Linked DNA regions of Homo sapiens. The protein of the gene in region 1 purifies or fractionates together with the protein of each later gene. This does not show direct contact. Each region holds a gene or a part of one and is shown in the gene's direction. Other genes may lie near its edges.

The links.
Region 2: the proteins of HAO2 (region 1) and PPFIBP1 purify together in Homo sapiens (affinity purification with mass spectrometry; 2 studies listed by BioGRID and IntAct, with this or other methods). This does not show direct contact.
Region 3: the proteins of HAO2 (region 1) and TBL1X purify together in Homo sapiens (affinity purification with mass spectrometry; one large-scale study listed by BioGRID and IntAct). This does not show direct contact.
Region 4: the proteins of HAO2 (region 1) and ZFTRAF1 purify together in Homo sapiens (affinity purification with mass spectrometry; 2 studies listed by BioGRID and IntAct, with this or other methods). This does not show direct contact.

Annotation. Positions count from the first base shown.
Region 1 is NC_000001.11:119,371,381-119,376,347, forward strand, and holds part of HAO2 (2-Hydroxyacid oxidase 2), read left to right. Parts: intron 1-4,967. UniProt on the Homo sapiens protein: Oxidase that catalyzes the oxidation of medium and long chain hydroxyacids such as 2-hydroxyhexadecanoate and 2-hydroxyoctanoate, to the correspondong 2-oxoacids.
Region 2 is NC_000012.12:27,526,456-27,531,422, forward strand, and holds part of PPFIBP1 (liprin-beta-1), read left to right. Parts: intron 1-4,967. UniProt on the Homo sapiens protein: May regulate the disassembly of focal adhesions. Did not bind receptor-like tyrosine phosphatases type 2A.
Region 3 is NC_000023.11:9,715,808-9,720,774, forward strand, and holds the end of TBL1X (F-box-like/WD repeat-containing protein TBL1X), read left to right. Parts: intron 1-412; coding exon 413-439; 3' UTR 440-3,933; downstream 3,934-4,967. UniProt on the Homo sapiens protein: F-box-like protein involved in the recruitment of the ubiquitin/19S proteasome complex to nuclear receptor-regulated transcription units. Plays an essential role in transcription activation mediated by nuclear receptors.
Region 4 is NC_000008.11:144,452,155-144,457,121, reverse strand, and holds part of ZFTRAF1 (zinc finger TRAF-type-containing protein 1), read left to right. Parts: intron 1-3,661; coding exon 3,662-3,900; intron 3,901-4,551; coding exon 4,552-4,763; coding exon of another isoform or gene 4,764-4,942; exon of another isoform or gene 4,943-4,967. Other genes in the region: TMEM276-ZFTRAF1 (uncharacterized protein LOC157542 isoform 1 precursor), read left to right, coding at 3,662-3,900, 4,552-4,763.

The DNA of each region.
Region 1 (4,967 bases):
TAAGACAGATTTAAACATAAGAAGTTATTTTTTAGTGATTGGCTGAATAATTAAGATTTTTTTTAACTTTCTGATTGAGTTATGATTTTTTGAGGGAAGAAAGCAAAGTTGCATATGTCCATGACATTTTAATCCTCTAAGGTCCGTGCCAACTCTGTCATTCCATAAACCACACTTGGCTGTGCCCATTTTCTTCTTTCTATAGTGCTTAAGAGCCAGGCCACTGGAATCGTGACACATTACTAGATATGTAATATTGAACAAAGTATTTTAACCTCTTGAACTTCAGGTTTCTCACCCGTGAAATGGGGATGATAATATTTGTGTTGAACATTTCCACAAGGATTAAAACAGTCATGCATGTAAAGCAATTTACACAGTGCATGGTACATCATGGAGTACTTGAAAAATGGTTGCAATATTATTGTCGTTATTATTATTCATATTAAGGAACCATCATGCTGCCTCCAGGGCTCTTTGCATAATCAAATTATTCCACTGTTTGAAAGAATAAGAAAGTCCTTATCTTTCAAAACACTATATAAACATTTGGATCAATGTCTCCCAGTATGCCCTAAACTATGTTCAACGCTCTATGGACAGCACACAGTTTACAATATGGCTGGGTTCCAAAACTCTACTTGGAGGGCATTTGTTTGAAACTCAGAACAGATTTTCCCACAAAAGAATGCTATTAAAATAGCGGTTGGATTCCCAGGTGACTGAAAATACCCACTTGATACACAAAATAGCAGAAGATCTGGCATATTTGCAATGCAAATTACTGTAAAGCAATGTTATTGTATTGCTGGTCATTAACCAAAACTGAAAACTAAGAAAACTGTGTAATAAATCATTTTTAAAAATTTCTTGTATATGCAACTGATGAAGAAAAGTAGGCTTAATTAGAGGAAGAGATAATTCAGTGGAAATGTAAGTAAGAAATGTTAAGATGCCTTTGAGGGTATTTTCAAAGGTTTTTGAAGTTCTTTGCTAGGTCTAATGCGACTTCAAAATTGTTTCACTTTGTTCTTCTTGACATAAGGGACTACATAGCACAATTATTTTTGGTTTGCAAATGAAAAAGGAAATGAGATGGGAGAGATTAGGAAAAGAGAAGAAGGCGTGAGAAAGATTTCCCTGAGAAAGGCACTCAATAGTTTGGAGAAATCGAGAAAGGAGGAAGAGGCACATCTGTGTAGTAAAACGGATTTCAATTACCTGGTCTGAGAACAGGAAAAACAGCTGGTGTGACAGGCCGTACCTCTTGTAAAAGGGAATAGTGACAAGACTGGTCAAGTAGTTATCCACTGAAACCATAAGGTGGTGCCACGGGACCAGAAAAGTTCTTGAAAAGAAAGACCTCCAGGCTGGGGAGGAGGAGCAAAGGCAGGCTTGAGCACCCAGCTGTTTGTTGTTGGCAAATATGTCTAAATATTGTGCTGGTTCCCTGTTCTATACTTTATTGCCATGAAGTAAATGCTGAACTAGAATGTTCATATGACCTCATCTAAACAGCTCCCTGTGTTTATGGGCAAAGAAAGCACAGAATATGAGTACTTGAAGGACCTCAGCTCAGCTTTTAATTTCAGGTGGCTTCAAATCTATCATGGATTAAGCTGAAATACACAAAAATGTATATTTTCTCAAATGAGGAAACTGAGACTTGGAGCGAAGACATGTAGCCTGCCACTGTTCAAATAAGTGTTAGTAGCTATCTCTCTTGAAGCAGCCTGCCTCTCAGGCTGCCACACACACCACTCCACTGACTGGATGAAGCAAAAGTTTATTCCGTATTCCAACTTCAAGTGGAGCTCCTTTTACTGGCATGGCTAAGCAGGGTCAGAAGGAGTAGAGGTGAAGGTGGAATGATAAAATCTAGTGTAGATGAGTTGAGTCTCTAGAAATCTTGGGTCTGTGCTGAGAAGCTAATTCTCATGTAAGGAGAAGCTAATTCTAAGTTATATTGCCAGGCTATCCAGAAGCAATTTCAAGAGTCATATCGTATTTCAGAAAGAACCCTAAATGCAGAGACAGAAGACCTGAGTTCATTTATTAGCTGTGCTGCCAAACTTGTGCACATCTCTCTGTCTCTCTAGGGTCCTTCTTGGCTCCATCAAGCAAGTTATTCTCATAGTCTTCCAATCCTCAATAGGCAGGATGTGTGGGAGGCAGGACAATGGTAGGTAATTGCCTAATTAGGTCACAATAACTTCAGAGTGAGCATGTCCTTAACATAAACATGCCCCACCACGGCAAATCTCAAAAACTCTTTCAATCCGTGACACACAAAGCTCCTAGAGTAAAGCAAAGATATGAGTCACTCCCTATCATGACTAAAGAAGCCACTCTGAAGAACTCAAGCATCATACTCCTCATGGTAGAACATGCTTACAGGTTGAGAAGGGAATTTTCATTAGTAGAAACAAAAAAAGGCTAATGAGAGTGGTTGAGGAGTGGCAGCCTAAAAAGGAGAGATTATTATATAAATCAGAATAAAACAAACAAAAAAAGGGCCATTATGGTTCAGAAGGCTCCTGCATCCTTGATTCACAATGTGTGAGAGCTCAGGGAAGAAGCCAGAGCTGATTCTGGGCTGACAGGCACCAGGAATTAATCCTTGCCAGATCTGAACTGGACTGGCTTCTTTTCCCCTCACTCCCATACAAATGCCATCCTTGATTCCTCAGATCACTGCAATGTTAGAAACACTCAGTTCCCTTTTTACTCTGAGGGCTGACCTGCTGTTCCTGGGCATCCAAATTCTTCCCCCTGCCCTCTCTTCCCCATGCTGGGGGCTCATCTGCCTCAGTCACAGGAGCATTTTCCAGTGCCATTGATTCATGTCTTCCCTGAACCCAACACTGCCATCTGCACATGGCTCTCCTAGTCTCCATCAGCTCTGGGACCCTTCTCCTCTCCCATCACCTCTTTCATTCTCAGGGTCTCCTCTAGCTTCAGCCTCTCCCCTGACAGTGCTGTTGTTGACAATGCCATGGTGATGGCTATACCCTTTGTATCCACTATCCTTGAGGGGAAGACTGATTACAGCATTTTCAGCCAACTTTGAACAGTCTAATCTCTCAAACTAGGCCCGTAAAATGTAGCCTTGATATTATCTGACATTCCATTGGGAAACTTGGCATAAGTTCCTAAAGAACTAGGCCAGAGGTTCTGGAAGGACACCATCCTATAGCACCAAGCAAGTGTACCTTAAAGTGAGTCATCAGAGGCTGACTTTTCTCCCCCGTTGTATCTCCACAGCCTACCCTGCAATTTTCACGCTGAGATTTCCCACAGACTGTGTAGGGGGTTTCCATACAAATATAAGCTGTGATAACCCTGAGTTCCTAAAGCAACACCAACATGAATCATATGAATCATACAAAATCTTCAAAGGAAGACAACTTTTTATCTGTCTGGTGTTAAATCAGATTGCAATATTAAAGAAAACCACGTCTTCCTTGAAAAGCCTGCCAGCTTCTCTACTTCCTTCCTCCTTCCCTCAGTCAGGAGAGTTTGAACTTCAGATTGTTAGCAACAGGTACTCCTGAATGTCCTTGCCCTCAGATTTCCTCCTCTTTGTCACTGGTCTGCTAATTTTACCTCACTGTTTTATCAGACAAAAAGCCTAAAGAGGTTCAAGGAGCTAAAATGAGCTAAAATTTCTAGAACAATAGCTGGCAATTGGTCAATTTGCTATTTTATTCTTTTCTCCTCTGTCTCTTCTTCTTGGGCAGTAGGAATAAAAAAGGAAAAAAGAAAAAACATTGAAATGGAGACAAAATAAAATGGGAATACAAGAAGACAAAATAAAGTGGGAATACAAGAAAACCATTAGATTACTTGAATCTTCCCTTTAATTTCTGGTGGCTTCAAGGCTGGTAGGGATCAAATTGAAAGAAAGTATATACAAATATATTGTGCTAAGTTCTTCACTTCCAAATTTAGGAAAAGCTTTGAACAAGGAAGGTATCCTTTTCTTTAATTATAAACCTTATATTAAACCTCTAACCAAAATAATAGACTACTAAGATTTACATATATTATATTAAAAATATATAATTGTATTTTTCAACCTACAAAATTATCTCGAGTTCAATATGGCAAGTCATTTATGAGAACCAACTATTGTGTTCTTTACCTGAAATTGAAAATGAGAATGTCTATCTTTAGAAGCTACCAGGACACATGAGTTCAGAACCATCTCTCATAATAACTTACTACCTGATTGTATTAGTCCATTTTCATAGTGCTATGAAGAAATACCTGAGACTGGGTAACTTATAAAGAAAAAAAGGTTTAATGGACTCCCAGTTCCACATAGCTGAAGGGGCCTCACAATTATGGCAGAAGGCAAAGGAGGAGCAAAGGCAAGTCTTACATGGTGGCAGGCAAGAGAGTGTGTGCAGGGGAACTGCCCTTTATAAGACCATCGGATCTCATGAGACTTTTTCACTATCATGAGAACAGCATGGTGAAACCCGCTCCCCCATGATTCAATTACCTCCCACCAGGACCCTCCTATGACATGTGGGGATTATGGGAGCTAAAATTCAAGATGAGGTTTGGTTGGGGACACAGCCAAACCATATCACTCCACTCCTGGCCCCTCACAAATCTCATGTCCTCACATTTCAAAACCAATCATGCCTTCCCAACAGTTCCTCAAAGTCATAACTAATTTCAGCATTAACTCAAAAATTCACAGTCCAAAGTCTCATCTGAGACAAGGCAAGTCCCTTCTACCTATGAGCCTGTAAAATCAAAAGCAAGTTAGTTACTTCCTAGATACAATGGGGATACAGGCATTGGGTAAATACCGCCATTCCAAATGGGAGAAATTAGACAAATCAAAGGTGCTACGGCCCCATGCAAGTCTAAAATCCAGCAGAGCAGTCAAATCTTAAAGCTCCAAAATGATCTTTTTGACTCCATATCTCACATCCAGGTCACACTGATGCAAG
Region 2 (4,967 bases), on another chromosome or scaffold:
TGTTTGAGTTATTGAGAAAGGTAGGATCAGTTTTTGGTTAAATTCCTGTGACCAACAACTGTCATATTTCCAAGAGCAACTTTAAAAATTAAGGTCGGCCAGGCTTGGTGGCTCACACCTGTAATCCAAGCACTTTAGGAGGCTGAGGCACGCAGATCACCTGAGGTCAGGAGTTGGAGACCAGCCTGGCTAACATGGTGAAACCCCATTTCTACTAAAAATACAAAAAAATTGCCGGGTGTGGTGGTGGGCACCTGTAATCTCAGCTACTTGGGAGGCTGAGGCAGGAGAATCGCTTGAACCCAGGAGGCGGAGGTTGCAGTGAGCTGAGATCTCGTTATTGCACTCCAGCCTGGGCGACTAGAGCAAAACTCCATCTCAAAAATAAATAAATAAAATAAAAATTAAGGTCATCTGGCCTTAATGGATAAATGTTGATTTGAAATCCAGGACACACTGAAGTTCCAGATCAATAGTGCCTAATTTCAAGGGCATCACTGACATTTTTTTGGGAACAAGTTCACCGAGGGACAGTTAATTAACTGTTTATGTAGTCTTTTTGTAGCTCCCTGTTCCACCGTGAGATAAATCAGAACAAGGTCATTTTTCCCCTCAGTTACTGACTAGCTGACTTCTTTTAAAACCTTTCCTATTCATAAAATATTTGTATAAGTAAATTTAGATTATGTTGATAATTTGTTACATTAAAATTAACTTTTCGTTTATATCCCAAACCAGCATAATTTTCAAACTGTTAACTGAAAGAAGACCTCATTCAGCACTCTGTCTTTTCTTTTTTCTTTTTTTTTTTGAGACAGGGTCTCGCTCTGCCGCCCTGGATGGAGTGCAGTGGTGCAGTCTCGGCTCACTGTAGCCTCTGCCTCCCAGGTTCAAATGATCCTCCCACCTCAGCCTTCCCTGGGACTACAGTCATGCACCAACATGCCCGGTTAATTTTTGTATTTTTAGTAGAGGCGGGTTCTCACCATGTTGCTCAGGCTGGTCTTGAACTCCTGGGCTCAAGCAGTCGACCCACCTTGACCTCCCAAAGTGCTAGGATTACATGAGTGAGCCCTGGGTGCCCAGCCTGTCTTTTCAAAGATGTTATTACGTGTCTCTGGCCTAGTTTGAATTACCTTTTCAAAACGATGAAGGAGTGAATTAATGAATGCATATTCATTCATGTTTGGGTCTGTGTCTTGATTCTTTATTAAAGAAACGTCGCTTCAAGGCGAAAACATAGGCAAGAAATGTTGCGTAATGACGTTTTTATTTTCAGAGATTTCCTTAGAAAGTCATATTAGCTCCAAAATTAAGAAAAAAAAAAATCACAGTTGAGCAGCCAGTTGTGAAATCTTTCAGGGAGCCATAATCATAACTATCATGATTATTTTGTTATTTTTAACCGTGGCCAAACAGATGGATTTAAATATGCGAGTCAAAGCTGTTAGGGTTACTGTCTCATTTTGATGCAGGGTATTCTTTGCTTTTTTGTTTGTTTGTTTGTTTTTGAGACAGAGTCGCTCTCTGTTGCCCGGGCTGGAGTGCAGTGGCGTGATCTTGCCTCGCTGCAACCTCCACTTCCCGGGTTCAAATGATTCTCATGCCTCAGGGTCCCAGTTAGCTAGGATTACAGGTGTATACCACAACGCCTGGCTAATTTTTGTATTTTTAGTAGAGACGGGGTTTCACCATGTTAGCCAGGCTGGTCTCGAACTCCTGACCTCAGGTGATCTGTCTGCCTCAGCCTCCCAAAGTGCTGGGATTATAGGAGTGAGCCACCACGCCTGGTTATGCAGGGTATTCTTTGTGAATAAAGGGAACAAAATGTCTTCTGGCCAGCATTTTCTGTTCAACCAAAGGTGGATAACTTCACAATTAAATCAGTTATCAAACTGTCCAAAAACTGCTCTGGGCTCTTGTAATTCAGTGCATCAGTAGTGTGTTATGTCAGTTATTTTTCAAATTTATTGCAGTGCACGTCAGAACCTTCTTCCTAGTAAAAAACAAAACAAAACCCTACAGCTTTTGTCATATATGTCACTGCCGCAAAAATTGATGCTGCGTTAAATGGAGCTCATAAATTTAAAACTAAACTGAATTATTCCACCCTACAAAATACATAGAATCTTTCTTTTACACCCTTCATTTTAGATATAATAATTACTGATGCTCAATTGGTGTTCAGTGATAATGTTTCCAGAAGCCAAGTGGTGAGCATTTTTTTTCCACTTCAAAAAAAAACCTAACATACCAGACAACTGGATTTTAGATAAAAGAAATATGGGTTCTTCTAGGAGTTTTAAGTTTACGCACTTTTTAGGCAGTTTGGGGGAGGAGGAGAGAGAACCTGAGGTAAATACGTACCAGTCTAAACCCACTGGAGAGTGTCTATTTCTGAAAGGTGGGTTTGGACTCTGAGTGGTCCAAGTGGATGTGTTGTCACAGTTTGTGAGTGCTCTTTGGTTATGCTTCTCCCTGGAACTTGATGGGACTCACATTTTGACTGGCCCACACACACATCCTTGTTTTTGTTGGCAAGTGTAATGAGTTCAGAATAGAAAGATCATGTAGTGGTTTTATGTACAGGGGTGCACCTAACAATGTCCATGCCTGAAGGAATTGTATAAACTCAAATTGCACTGAGTATCCGTCATTCTGGCCAAGGGTCATGTCTTAAATATGGATCATGTAGGAGGAAGATCAAGTACCACCATCACGTTTGGGGCTGGCCCTAGATTTTATGGACACCCTCTGGACTCCACAATAGGCCTGGATATTTTCACCTCTCCTTTAATTTAGGGAAATTATTCATTTGACATGAAAAGACAAGTTCAGAAGAGTAGGTATGCTCATTCTTAGTGTGTCTTTGTTAAGAGGTGAAACTCCATTTCACCTGGTGAAAGAGGTACTAAGGCTTTTTTCAGTGGCAAGTCTATTCCTAAAGAAGTGGCCAGGCTGGACGCGATGGCTCATGCCTGTAATCCCAGCACTTTGGGAGGCTGAGGTGGATGGATCACTTGGGGTCAGGAGTTCGAGACCAGCCTGGCCAACATGGCAAAACCCCGTCTCTACTAAAAATACAAAAATTGGCCGAATGTGGTGGCGCATGCCTGTAGTCCCAGCTACTCAGGAGGCTGAGGCAGGAGAATTGCTTGAAGCCGGGAGGCGGAGGTTACAGTGAGCTGAGATCACGCCACTGCACTCCAGCCTGGGCAACAGAGCAAGACTCTGTCTAAAATAATAATAATAGTAAGTTGCCAAATTTTAATTTTTCCTTTTAGCAATAATAGCTGAACTCTTAAGAAGTGGCCAGATTCTTCAGGCCAGCAAGGTAGTTTTGGGGAAGAACTAGGTAGGCCCATTGGGAAGAGTGTGGACTCTTTTATGGTATGCAGTAATACTGTACCATATCACTAAATGTACCTGTGTTTTCTTGTATTTCCGTGCCTAGGATCAAGCTCACTGATGTCCTTTTGCTGGCACTTTGTTATCCTTCTCTTCATCCATAGTACTCTACACAAATATTATCTTACTACCACAGAATTGCAAAAGTTTTTCATGAGGAAAGTTTATTGTATTTACTTTATTTAGAAAAAATGAAAACAAGGTTGAAACTCTGTGGTCTACTTTTTTCATCTAGTGACTTGACAGGGCGGCTGCTATTGCATAAAGAATGCCTTTGCAACCGTTATCTTTTTCTAAAGATGCTGCCTCTTATAACAACACAGTATAGAATTTTCTTTTGTTTGCATTGGAATTTGAATACATCTACTTTTTCTTGTGAATGATGGAAGAGTCGAATGAACCTGTGGGTTCTCGAAATTAACTCTGGGAAGTGAGAGGGTGGAAGGGAAACAGTGACGACTCACAGGAGACACACTGGTTGAACCTGTGATCTTGCCAGGGCCATTTGTGTGAAGTCACCTGAATCTCGGTGTTTTTCCTCTGGATCAGCTGCCTGGATGGTTTTGTCAAACTTTCAGATCCTTCCATCCTCCACCCCCATCAATGTGTGACTTTGCATAACTGAGAAAGCTACTAAACACAGAATTAAGTTTCTTTTATTGTTTTTCTCTACTAAGGGAATTTGATTCTCTAGGATGACTTGCACTTCATGTGGGAAAGACACAGCTGGATGCCCAACTGATATCCATTCCCCCCTCCTTTTCTGTAACTGAACCCATTTTGTTTAATTCACCACTATGTCCAGTTAAGTGCTAGATTTCCCAGAATCCCTTGCAGCTGGGAGGTGGTTCAGTGACAGTAGTCCTGGCTGATGAGATGTAAATAGCTGGATGCCCCGTTCCCCAAAGCTCTTAAAAGGGGAAGCCTCTGTGAGCTTGCCTGTTAAGCCTTTTGCTCTTTGTACTTCTTCCCTGGAGAAAGTAAGCAGGCCATCGCGTGACCAAAGACAAGATGCTTGAGGGTTAAGGATGAGTGGGTGGAAGGTTAGAAGGAGGCTGAGAAGCTGATAGCATTCTGCAACTGCTCTACTGGACCCATTTCTTGACTCTGTGAGAAAAATAAAATCTCTACTTGGTTAAACCACAGAACTTGGGTCAGTTACTTGCAGCCAAATGTGATCTTAACTGAGTCTAGATGTCTAAAAATCATAGTTCATCTTTTCTTTAAAAATAAAAACGTGTTATTTTGTACGAGAAAAACAGGACTTTGGAGCCATGCAGATCCTCAACTTGAATCCTGGCTTTGCTATTTATTACAGTCTAATATTGGCAAGTAACTTAACCTCTCTGGGTCTCAGCTTTCTCATCTATAAAATGGTAGCTCTGATATATGTGCCATAGCATTTTTTGAAGGATTAGAAATAATTAGAAATTATTATTATTTTTTTTTGAGACAGTCTCGTGCTGTCACCCAGGCTGGAGTGCAGTGTTGCAATCTCGGCTCACTGCAACCTCCACCTCCTGGGTTCAAGCGATTCTCCAGCCTCAGCCTCCCAGGGA
Region 3 (4,967 bases), on another chromosome or scaffold:
CTTGAGGTTGCCCTGACCTCTGGGGCAAGCGGCCGTTCTGGCTGAACGGCCAAGGGTCAGAGTAGTCCCCAAATGTTGTCAGAGGCTGTGTACTTGGGCTCGTATTGTCATCTGCCCCACGATTGCAGGTGTCCCTTCTGGGACCTCTGCCACTCTGTTAATTCCTATCATTACCCTTAACCTGGCCTTTCTGCTCTGTGCTGTTTGCTTCAGTTTGCTCGGTCCGATGTCCAGATGCCAGTCTGTTATGAGAGCTTCTCTGACCCTTCATGACGATGTTCCAATAAACTTTACTGACAAACATCGGTGGAGGGCTAGATTGGGCGTGGGGGCCGTAGCTTGCCGACTTCTCACTCTAAAGGCATCTTTGTATTGTCTCTCAAGATGACAGGTGCTTTATCTTTCCTTCCAGGTGTGTGTTTTGGATCTGCGGAAGTAACCACAAAATATTATCGAAAAAAGAAAAGAATTCTAATGACCAGCCGTGAATGTGTAGGGTTGCAGCTCTATTCTCCAAAACTGTAGGAACTTGACTTGCGTTAGAGTGTACTCTGAAACCAACTCGTCTCTGGCCGCAGGAGTCTATATGTTTTCGTAATCTTCATCAAGAAGTTTTTAAAAGGCAAGCAAAAACAGAAGCAAATCATATCAAACGGGGATAGAATGGTTTCCACTGAGGACATTCAGCCTGGGAAGGAGGAAGTCACCAGCTCGAGGCGTGTGGATTGGTTTCCACCCGGAACAGGCTCTGTGATGGCTGAATGGAAAGAAACGTAAAAAGCTGTGCCAAAAAAAAAGCAAAATGCTGTGATAAACCAAACAGGGAAGGGGGAAAAACCCTCCTCCTTGGGATTTTTTTTTTTTGTTTTCCCTAACAATTTGGACACTACAATTGCTCTCACAAAGGAGGTTCAAAGACCAGTTTGTACCGATGAAACGCGCAACTTTGTAATCCCAACACTTTCTATTTTCTAGAATCTTCTTTGTTCATTGGGTGGTTTTTCAGTCGGCTGGAATTCTATCTTCTGGGGGCCTTCCGTCTGAGATGGAAGCTGTCTTGGGCTTGTTGTCTCTTCCTTCTGTTGCTCCCTGCCCCTCCCCCTGCCTTTCCACTCTGTCTGGTGAGCTCTGCTTTTTCAGTGCACCATCAAGAGATGCAGCCCCGTGGACATGAAGACACAATCTCCCACGGACAGCTTTCCCCCTTCCGCCCTCTCCCACCCTCTCCTCCCCTTGCGCTCGCGCTCGCGCTCGCTTTCTCACTGGCGTGCTCTCTTTCTCTCTCTCTCTCCCTCTGTACCTTTCTCATAGTTGCTTCAGATCTTAGGTCTCAAGGGCACTTTGGCGCGTAGTAAGTGCTTTATGTAAGAAGGCAGGGCAGGGGGGCTTTTTACAGGAGAAAAAAAAATGACTTATAAGAGAAAGAGCCTGGAGTATTTTTGGAAAAAAAAATAATATTTTTATGTTAAAACAATTTTAAAATCTTAAAATGGCCATCAGACATAGAGAGCTTTGTGTGATTCATGTTTTAAAAAGAACCGAAGAAGCCACAGGCAGGGCCTGAGGGAGCCCCTGGCTTTCCCCTCAGCCTCAGGAAAGGTGGTCAGGAAAACTCTGGCTGGACAAGGGTCAGTCTTCGGGGTCAGCAGCGAGATTGCTCTGCAGCCAGTGAGGGAGGTCCCCGCCATGCCGGCTGGAAGAAGAACCTCGCATCTTTTGGTGTGTATGCACCTTGGCAGCCAGCAGGAAAGCAGCGAAGAGCCGCGCGCCCTCTGGCCTCAAGGGAGCATTGGCAGAACCATAAGGTACTGCAGAAGCCGTCGAAACCGACTGCTCGGCTGGATTAGGCGTGTTGGCTACATCTTTCCCACAACCGTATAACGACCGATGGTCATTTCTCCAAGAGCAGGCTTGGCGAGTCCTTGCAGAGCTGACATAGAGGCGCCCGCATGTCACTTAGTCTAACGCTGACAGAAATGAATGCAGAAGGAAGATTTTCAGTCCTGAACGTGAATTATAGAGGTAGAACGTCGCTAATAATTTCTGCCATCTTTATAATTTCTTTGTCTCACAGAAGACTAGGAGAAAGATCTTTTTTAAATAATCTTTTTGCTGTTTTTAAAAAATTAAACAAGGCTTTGTGTTCCTAGAAGAGCTTCATTTCAGTGAATCTGGTGACCTCCATCTGCTTGCTGTCATAACCCGACACGGACTTATTTTTGTCATTAGCAAGGGGGAAAAGGCCAAAGGACAAGGGCCTCTTCTCCCATTGGTTTTCCTGTGGGCAGAAGGGCTGAGGAAGATGGCCCAGCCCGTGGGGGCTGCTGGGTCACCAGCAGTGGGTAGGGTGCAATCTGGTGTGTGTTCCAGCAGTGAGACGGTGTTATTGTGAAGGTGGCATTCATCTGCGGAGCCAAAACCCAGCCATCGGGGAAGGGTCAGGGCTTCTGTGGAACTTGGAACGTGCCAGGACCACCTGCAAAAGCCAGGGTGCGTTGATCATTCTCAGATCATTGATTGGCCTCCACTTGGGTATGTGAATTATTCATGTCCCAGAAGACCAAAAAGTGCTCTGGTTCTGAGATGAGTATTTTATTCGTGTTCTGTTTCCGAAACACTTAGCAAAGAAGGTCACAGTGATGTGGAGTCGCCGCACCCATCTTTGAAGATAGCCAGTGTCCCTGGATGAGGTGATGATTTCCCGTCCCAAGGACTCTGTGAAGTTTAGAGTACAGTTTGTTGGGGTCCAAAAGACACCATCTCTACCCCACCCAAATAAAAATGCACTCATCTCTGTAGAACATCTGCTGTCAAAGGCCAGCCTGTCGTTAGGGCATGGCTTATGCTTGACAAACCAGTAACAACTGTGGGATGGCGATGGTGGGATGTGTCGCAAGCAATTCACTAGACAATCTTCACATGAATGTCGGTAGCCAGGGTCTCTCCCGAGGGATGGCTTTAGTCTTGATGAATGTGAACCATGTCGGAATTGTTAGGTAGAAACCTGGGCTGGGAGGCCTCGGACCCCAGGCTCCATCCCTGGCTTCCCCAGCCTGCGGCCGCAAGCAAAACCAAGCGCGAGATGCAGCTAGCACCCTTCATATCCATCCCCGTTCTCAGCGGGACAACACCATGGACAGCCGTTTTCAGAGCCTCCAGCATTTGCACACCACTACTCACCCTCTCTGCTGCTGGCATGTTGGTAGAGTCATCCCTGTAATCAAGAAATGGCCTGTGGAATGTTATTGTTCAACGTTGTTTACAGCTCTTAAAACATGGTGAGGAATGCCTAAGTCTTAGTGACCAAACGTGACCTTGAAAGCAGACATAGCATGACAGACCTTCCTAGAGTGTTTGGTCGGGTTCACAGTGACCGAGAGTCAGGTCCAGCACACACCTGGGAAAGGGATGCTGCCCCAAGGGGGACCAAAAGGGCCGGACGTTACAGGGTGAAACCCTCTGACCCCTCGCGACACCGTAGGACTTGACTTTTGTTTAGTCTTTCTAAGAAATAGATCATGGAGCCAAGTGAAGTGCACTTTGTCAAATGTAAGGGTCTGCTTTGTTCTTGTTGCTTTTCTGTTTTTTAACCTTTTGTTCCGCCATTTAAAAAAAGAAAAAAAAAAAGCTTATGTTTCTTGTCAAATGCAGAAATGTTCCTTCCGCCACTCACTGAAGTTTTGCATTCTGGCTTGTGCAGTTTTTATTGTCTGTGTCAGACGTACAGCCAGACATGTTCTCTATTGGCATTTTTCCGATTCTGTTCAGATGACAGCGACCGCCTTTTCATTCCCCCCGCCACCTGTACTCACCCTCACGCTCTTTGAAGAAAAAAAAAAAAATCACCTTGTGTGTTGTAGCTCATTTGTTTCAAGAGAGAATCAACAGATCATATTCAGTGTCTTGAATAAATTGCTCTATTTTGATATTAGAGAACTTGGTGGGTGTGCTTTCTTCCTCTCGCTCTGGAACTCTTGGGCCCACGTTGACTGAATGACTGAAGACAGAGCTCTGTATTTTCTCCAGAAGGAAGTACCTTGAGCCTCTGTTTAGGATTGCTGTGTGAGATAGGGAGCTGGGAGCAGAACGCAGTGACATGGCAGTCACAGCAGCCGCCTGCTGTTCTGAAAGGTGGTTCTGTCCAGGGATCATGTTTTTTAGTGTGTTTCCTTTTCATTCTTTATTTCAGGCTGGCTGTTGGAGAAAGACAAAGCAAATGAATGTTCTCTCATCAGCGGATTGGTTGACCGGGAGTTTGAGTTCCCGAATTACCCCCGAGTAATTTGCAGAACCTAACAGGATGGGGTGACTTTGGACATGGACGTCTGCATGGTGCAAACCAACATGTGGCAAACATTTATTGACATTTGCTCTGTGCATGTCTTCATTTATGCTGCTTTAATTAATTAGGTGGCTGTTAAATAATGTAATTAGTGAATGGATATTGCTATCGGCATTCTATGAAGGAGGCTGTAGATTCCGAGAGGCGAAGAGATGGCCTTACTCTTAGTCTAAGGTTTCACTTTGCAGATGAGTCCCAGACAAAGTCACGGTGTCATTTCCCTCTAATCCTGCTTGTTCCGCACTAGGACAAAGCAGATGGCTAGGGGCGTAGAGGCTTCTGTGGTGATTCCCTGGGAAAGATCCAAGTGTGCCTGTGACCTTCACTGATGATCCGGACTTTTGCAGGAACCAAATCCCAAATTCAAGTCTTGAATTGGCAACTGAAGACTGAATATTATATGAGCAGTTGTCACCTTTAGAGAAAAACTTACCCTATCTTCCGGTGTTTTCTGGGGTTCACCTTCTCATTTTCATTTTTCTCTTTAGCCCCTGCCAAGTGGAGCAAGTGTGTTGCCAGGTGGTGGATTTGGGGCACCCTGAGGGGTACTGCAGAACCCTGGGACAGCTCGGGAAGAACCGCATGGAAACAGTGGGCAGACAACAAAGCATGCGGCAGTTCCCAG
Region 4 (4,967 bases), on another chromosome or scaffold:
GTCATCCCCTGTGGTATCACCTCTGTGATGTCAATACCTCTTTTAATGTCATCCCCATGGTGTCATTCCCCCCATGATGCCATCCCCCCATGATGTCAGTCCCCCATGATGTCAATTTCCCACAATGTCATCCCCTGTAATGTCAATACTCCCTTTGATGTCATCCCCGTAATGTCATCCCCTGTGATGTCATTCCCTCATGATGCCAGTGTGATGTCATCTCTGTGATGTCATTCCGTGATGTCACCCCCCATGATGCAATTCCCCTGCAATGTCATGCCCCTGTGATGTCATCCCCCGGTGATGTCATCCCCCCATGTGATGCCAGTCTCCCATGATGTCCCCCCTGTGATGTCATTCATGTGACATCATCCCGTGATATCATTCCCGTGATGTCTCCCCCATGATGTCATTCCCCATGTGATGTCAATTTCCCACGATGTCACCCCTCTGACATCATCCTCTGTGATGTCTCGCCCATGATGTCATCCCCCATGGCGTCATTCTTGGTCGTGGGGGGTTGTGGATCCCCTCCTCTCCCCTCCCTTGGGGTCTTCCTGGCTGGTGGGGAGAGGTGGCCTGGCCTGGGTGCCACAGCAGCTGCTCTGGAAGGTGCCCGGGCTCTTGGGGGCCTTGGCCCACGCCATCCCCTGGACTGTGCGGCGCCCTCCAGGGCCCAGCTTCTGTTGGGTGTTGGGCACAAGTCAGAATCAAGTGCATCTGGCCAGATGCTGCCAGGGCCAAGGATGCAGCTGCCTGTGGCCTGGCCTTGGTGTAGAGCCAGAGTCTTGCGCAGGGGCTGAGGGGACCCAGATGGTGGGGAGGCTCCGGAGCATGTGACCAGGGACCGTCCTGCTGTGGACAGACCTCCTGGGCTGAGTGTTGGTCGGGACCGGGCCATGCACCTAGAGATGTCCTTTGACCAGTGGGGAGGGTCTGGGGGTGAGTGTGGCTGTGTCCCTTGGCTACTGGGCCAGTGTAGTCCAGGGCACTCTAGGGACTCCCTGTGTTCTGACTTGAATGGAGCTATTGGGGCTGAAGGGGCAATGGCCCTGTGTCTCCTCGGAGCTTGCAGGTCCTCTTGGAGGCCCAGAGAGAGCCAGAGGAGGGCAGGGTCACTGCTGCCTCCTCATGGTATGGAATTGACTGAGCCCATGCTGGGATCTGGAGGCCCCAAAGGAATGAGGCCTGTGGCCAGGGGCCGGCCCAGGAGCTGGGGTGGCTTTCGGGGGAGAGGCCCGCAGTGCTGGGAGGTAAGTGGTGATGTGCTTGGCAGCCTCAGTGCTCCCTTAGGAGGGTCTAGGACCCCACCTCGAATCTTCCTGGGCTATGCAGAGCCAGGAAGAGAGGCCAGGTGGCCTTGGTGGGTGGCATTAGATGCTCCAGCCCTGCCTGGAACTCCCTTGGGGGTCGGGCCACAGCCAAGAAGAGTGCTGTTTTGCCTGTGCTAAGGCCACTGTACGTGCAGAGCTGGACCCAGAACCTCGTCCAAGGCCCCCGGCAGTCTCACCAGGAGGTGTTTAGAGCTGGCCACGTGGAGTGGCATACCTCCGGGGGGCGGGGGGCTGTGAGAGGACAGTGGTGTGGGCCCTTGGTCTGTGCCTCCCACAGGACAGCTGCTTCAATAGCATCTGTGCCCCCTCCTGCCTGTAGTCCACCCACCACTGACCCCTGGACTTGGCTGGCGGATTTTCACACCTTCTCCTGGGGGCAGGTCTCAGCTTGTCCCCAACCCAGTCAGAGCCAGTCTCACTCCCTGCCTCAGGCAACTGTGTATGTTTTAATTTTTATTTATTTATGTATTCATGAGATAGAGTCTCACTCTGTCTCCCAGGCTGGAGTGTAGTGGCACCATTTCGGCTCACTGCAACCTCCGCCTCCCGGGTTCGAGCCATTCTCCTGCCTCAGCCTCCTGAGAAGCTGAGATTACAGGCGCTCGCCACCATGCATGGCTAATTTTTGTATTTTTAGTAGAGATGGGGTTTCACCATGTTGGCCAGGCTGGTCATGAACTCCTAACCTCAGGTGACCTGCCTGCCTCGGCCTTCCAAAGTGCTGGGATTACAGGCATGAGCCACCGCCTGTAATTTTAATTTTTAACCAAACTGAGAACTTGAGGATTGAATGCAGGTAACGGGTGGTGTTCATGTGGATGTGGATTCCATGAAAGAGGGCTTTGTCCTCACTGTCGGTTCTCCACATGTAGGTCCTTTGACTCAGCAGGCCTTAGGCCTAGTCCACAGGTGCTGAGTGAACAGCCCCAGCGTCTGACAGCTCCTTAGCTTGGGGTGCACAGGCAGCTGAAGCAGTAGGATGGCAGCTCAGACTTCCCAGGGCCCCACGTGTGCAGGGCTGGCCTCCCAGCACCACCAGGCAGGGCCGGCCTCCCAGCGCCACCAGGCAGGGCCCTGTGAGTGTCCCCTCCCTGACACACACCTTGTAGAGAGGCTGGGCCTGGGCAGGCTGCTCTGCTGCACCACATCCCATTCTCAAGAGGGTCCCAGGTCCCAAAGGAAGCCTGTAGCCCAGTGGCTTTCTGGAGGTTTGCATGGCTGGCAAGCCTGGGCCGGCTGCTGGAGAGGCATCAGGACAGGAGCAACTCTGCTGACTGCTCCCCTCAGCGAGCTCTAAGAGTCTTTGGGTGGGAGGCACATCACATCCCTGTCACTCCTGGCTGGCCCTGGAATGCCTCAGCCCACACACCCCACTCCAGCCAGGGCTGTGGGAACTGTGTCTGCTCAGGTACAAAAGGCTTTGTTTGTTCTTGGACCTCTTGGTTCTGGTCTGGGCTTCCCACCTCCCATGCTGTGAGCCCCCACGGGCTGGGACCGCAGCTTGCCATGTGTCTCTCAGTGGCACCAAGTGGACGCTCGAGGCTTATGTTGAGGGAGTGAGAGCCAGGATAGGCCACTGGGCGTGCTGGGAGCCCACACAGGCAGGGAGCCCAGCGGGAGGTGCCCTGCTCCTGCCAGCCCCGGTTACCCCAGCAGGCTCGGCACCCACTCAGAGCCCCCATTTCTGCTCCCCAGGCACTCCCTGTGTGCCTACCTGCCCTTGTCCTTGTCCTGGGCCAGCTTGGCTCCTGCCTCCCAGCTCTGAGGAGGTCTCTGCAGGTAGCCAACCTCCCTGGACGAGGGGGCAGCTGCCTCCTCTCACCTGGGCTCACCCTGAGCCAAGTCCTCTCAACCCAGGATAAATGGCCTTTCTGAAGGCCCAGAGAGCATGCCTGCCCCAGTGTGGGAGCTGCATCCGCTCCCCACCTGACAGTGATGGCCAAGAGCCCAGTGTTCCTGGAGGGCTCCCAAACTCTGGACCTGTAGGGGGGTCAGGGCAGTCGCTGGTCCCTAAGGGAAAAGCGTGACCCTCGGCCCCAGGTGGCTGAACCCGTCACTGCCAGGGCGAGCTGTCACCTCTGTGAGCTGATGAGGCCTTGCTTTTAGGACCTCTAATCTCTGCAAGAACCCAAGCTGGCTCTGCCTGTTTCTCCTGAGCAGCTCGCAGTGTTCACCACACTCCAGCACGACTCGGGACAGGCACGTGCGCCCCTCTGCACCAGCTGGAGTCCCTCAGGACACCTGGCTGGAGCTGATGGGCATGGGCGGGTGTGTGCGAGCATGAGCCCGCAGGTCTGTGAGCTTCGTCTCCCTTTCCTTCTTCGCAGTGTACTAATGGTCACTTGATGTGCGCTGGCTGTTTTATCCACCTACTAGCAGATGCCCGGCTGAAGGAGGAGCAGGCCACGTGCCCCAATTGTCGTTGTGAGATCAGTAAGAGCCTCTGCTGCCGGAACCTGGCCGTGGAGAAAGCCGTGAGCGAGCTGCCTTCAGAGTGTGGCTTCTGCCTGCGCCAGTTTCCCCGCTCCCTCCTGGAGAGGCACCAGAAAGAGGAATGCCAGGACAGGTAACTGAGGGTCAGGGGCTTAGCCTTACAGGCGGGGCCCAGGACTGCTGGGAGCCCACCCTGGTGCAGCAGGGCCCTGTGCAGGGTGGTCTGGCTGTCTCTGCTGTCTGGGCCTTGGGGACCACCTGTGTAGCCCAGTGACGGCCCTGTGGGAGGGTGCCTGCACAGGATGGGGACAGGTGGGTTTTGCACCCAGTTGTTATCCGGACATGAGCCTAGCCTTCCAGTGCTCTTTGTGGCTGTGGGGGAGCCCCTTGAAGGGCCCAGGACAGCGTGTCCAACGCAGGACCTCAGGGAGCTTGGTGTGAGGGTACACTGCCCATGGCTACCCATCCAGTGGAGGCAGCCACCAAGTCTCCTGCAGTGAGGCTGTGCAGGACCACCACTGCCAAACAGAGGAGAGAACCACGCCATGGTGCGGGGCACACAGGCTCAAGCTTGCACTCTTCCTTCCCCTCTCTCTCCCTTTTTCTGCCTGTCTCCTTTCTCTCCACATGCTGCCACTCTGACCTCATCCTGGGGGGTGGGCTCACAGTTACGTGTGTCCTGCAGGAAGGGGTTCTTAGCTGGATGGAAGCCATATGGGAGGACAGCTTGTTGCAGCCTCCTGTTCGGGGCTCAGTCTGTGAGTGATGTACCTGCCTCCCCCAGGGTAACCCAGTGCAAGTACAAACGCATCGGCTGCCCATGGCACGGCCCCTTCCATGAGCTGACGGTGCACGAGGCTGCGTGCGCCCACCCGACCAAGACAGGCAGTGAGCTGATGGAGATCCTGGATGGGATGGACCAGAGCCACCGCAAGGAGATGCAGCTGTACAACAGCATCTTCAGCCTGCTCAGCTTCGAGAAGATTGGCTACACAGGTGAGGCGCCCCGCCGCCTGCTGCATGCCACACAGGTGTGGGTTGGGGGGCTGGCAGCCAGGAGTCTGGGGGCAGCAGGCTCTGGGCACTGGGCACTGACAGCGCCGGACAGCCGGGCTCTGGACAAGCTCCCGGTGGACAGGTGGACACCTCGGTCGAGAAGACAGGCCGGAGACTGAGTGGAAGGAGGGGCCGAGGCAGACC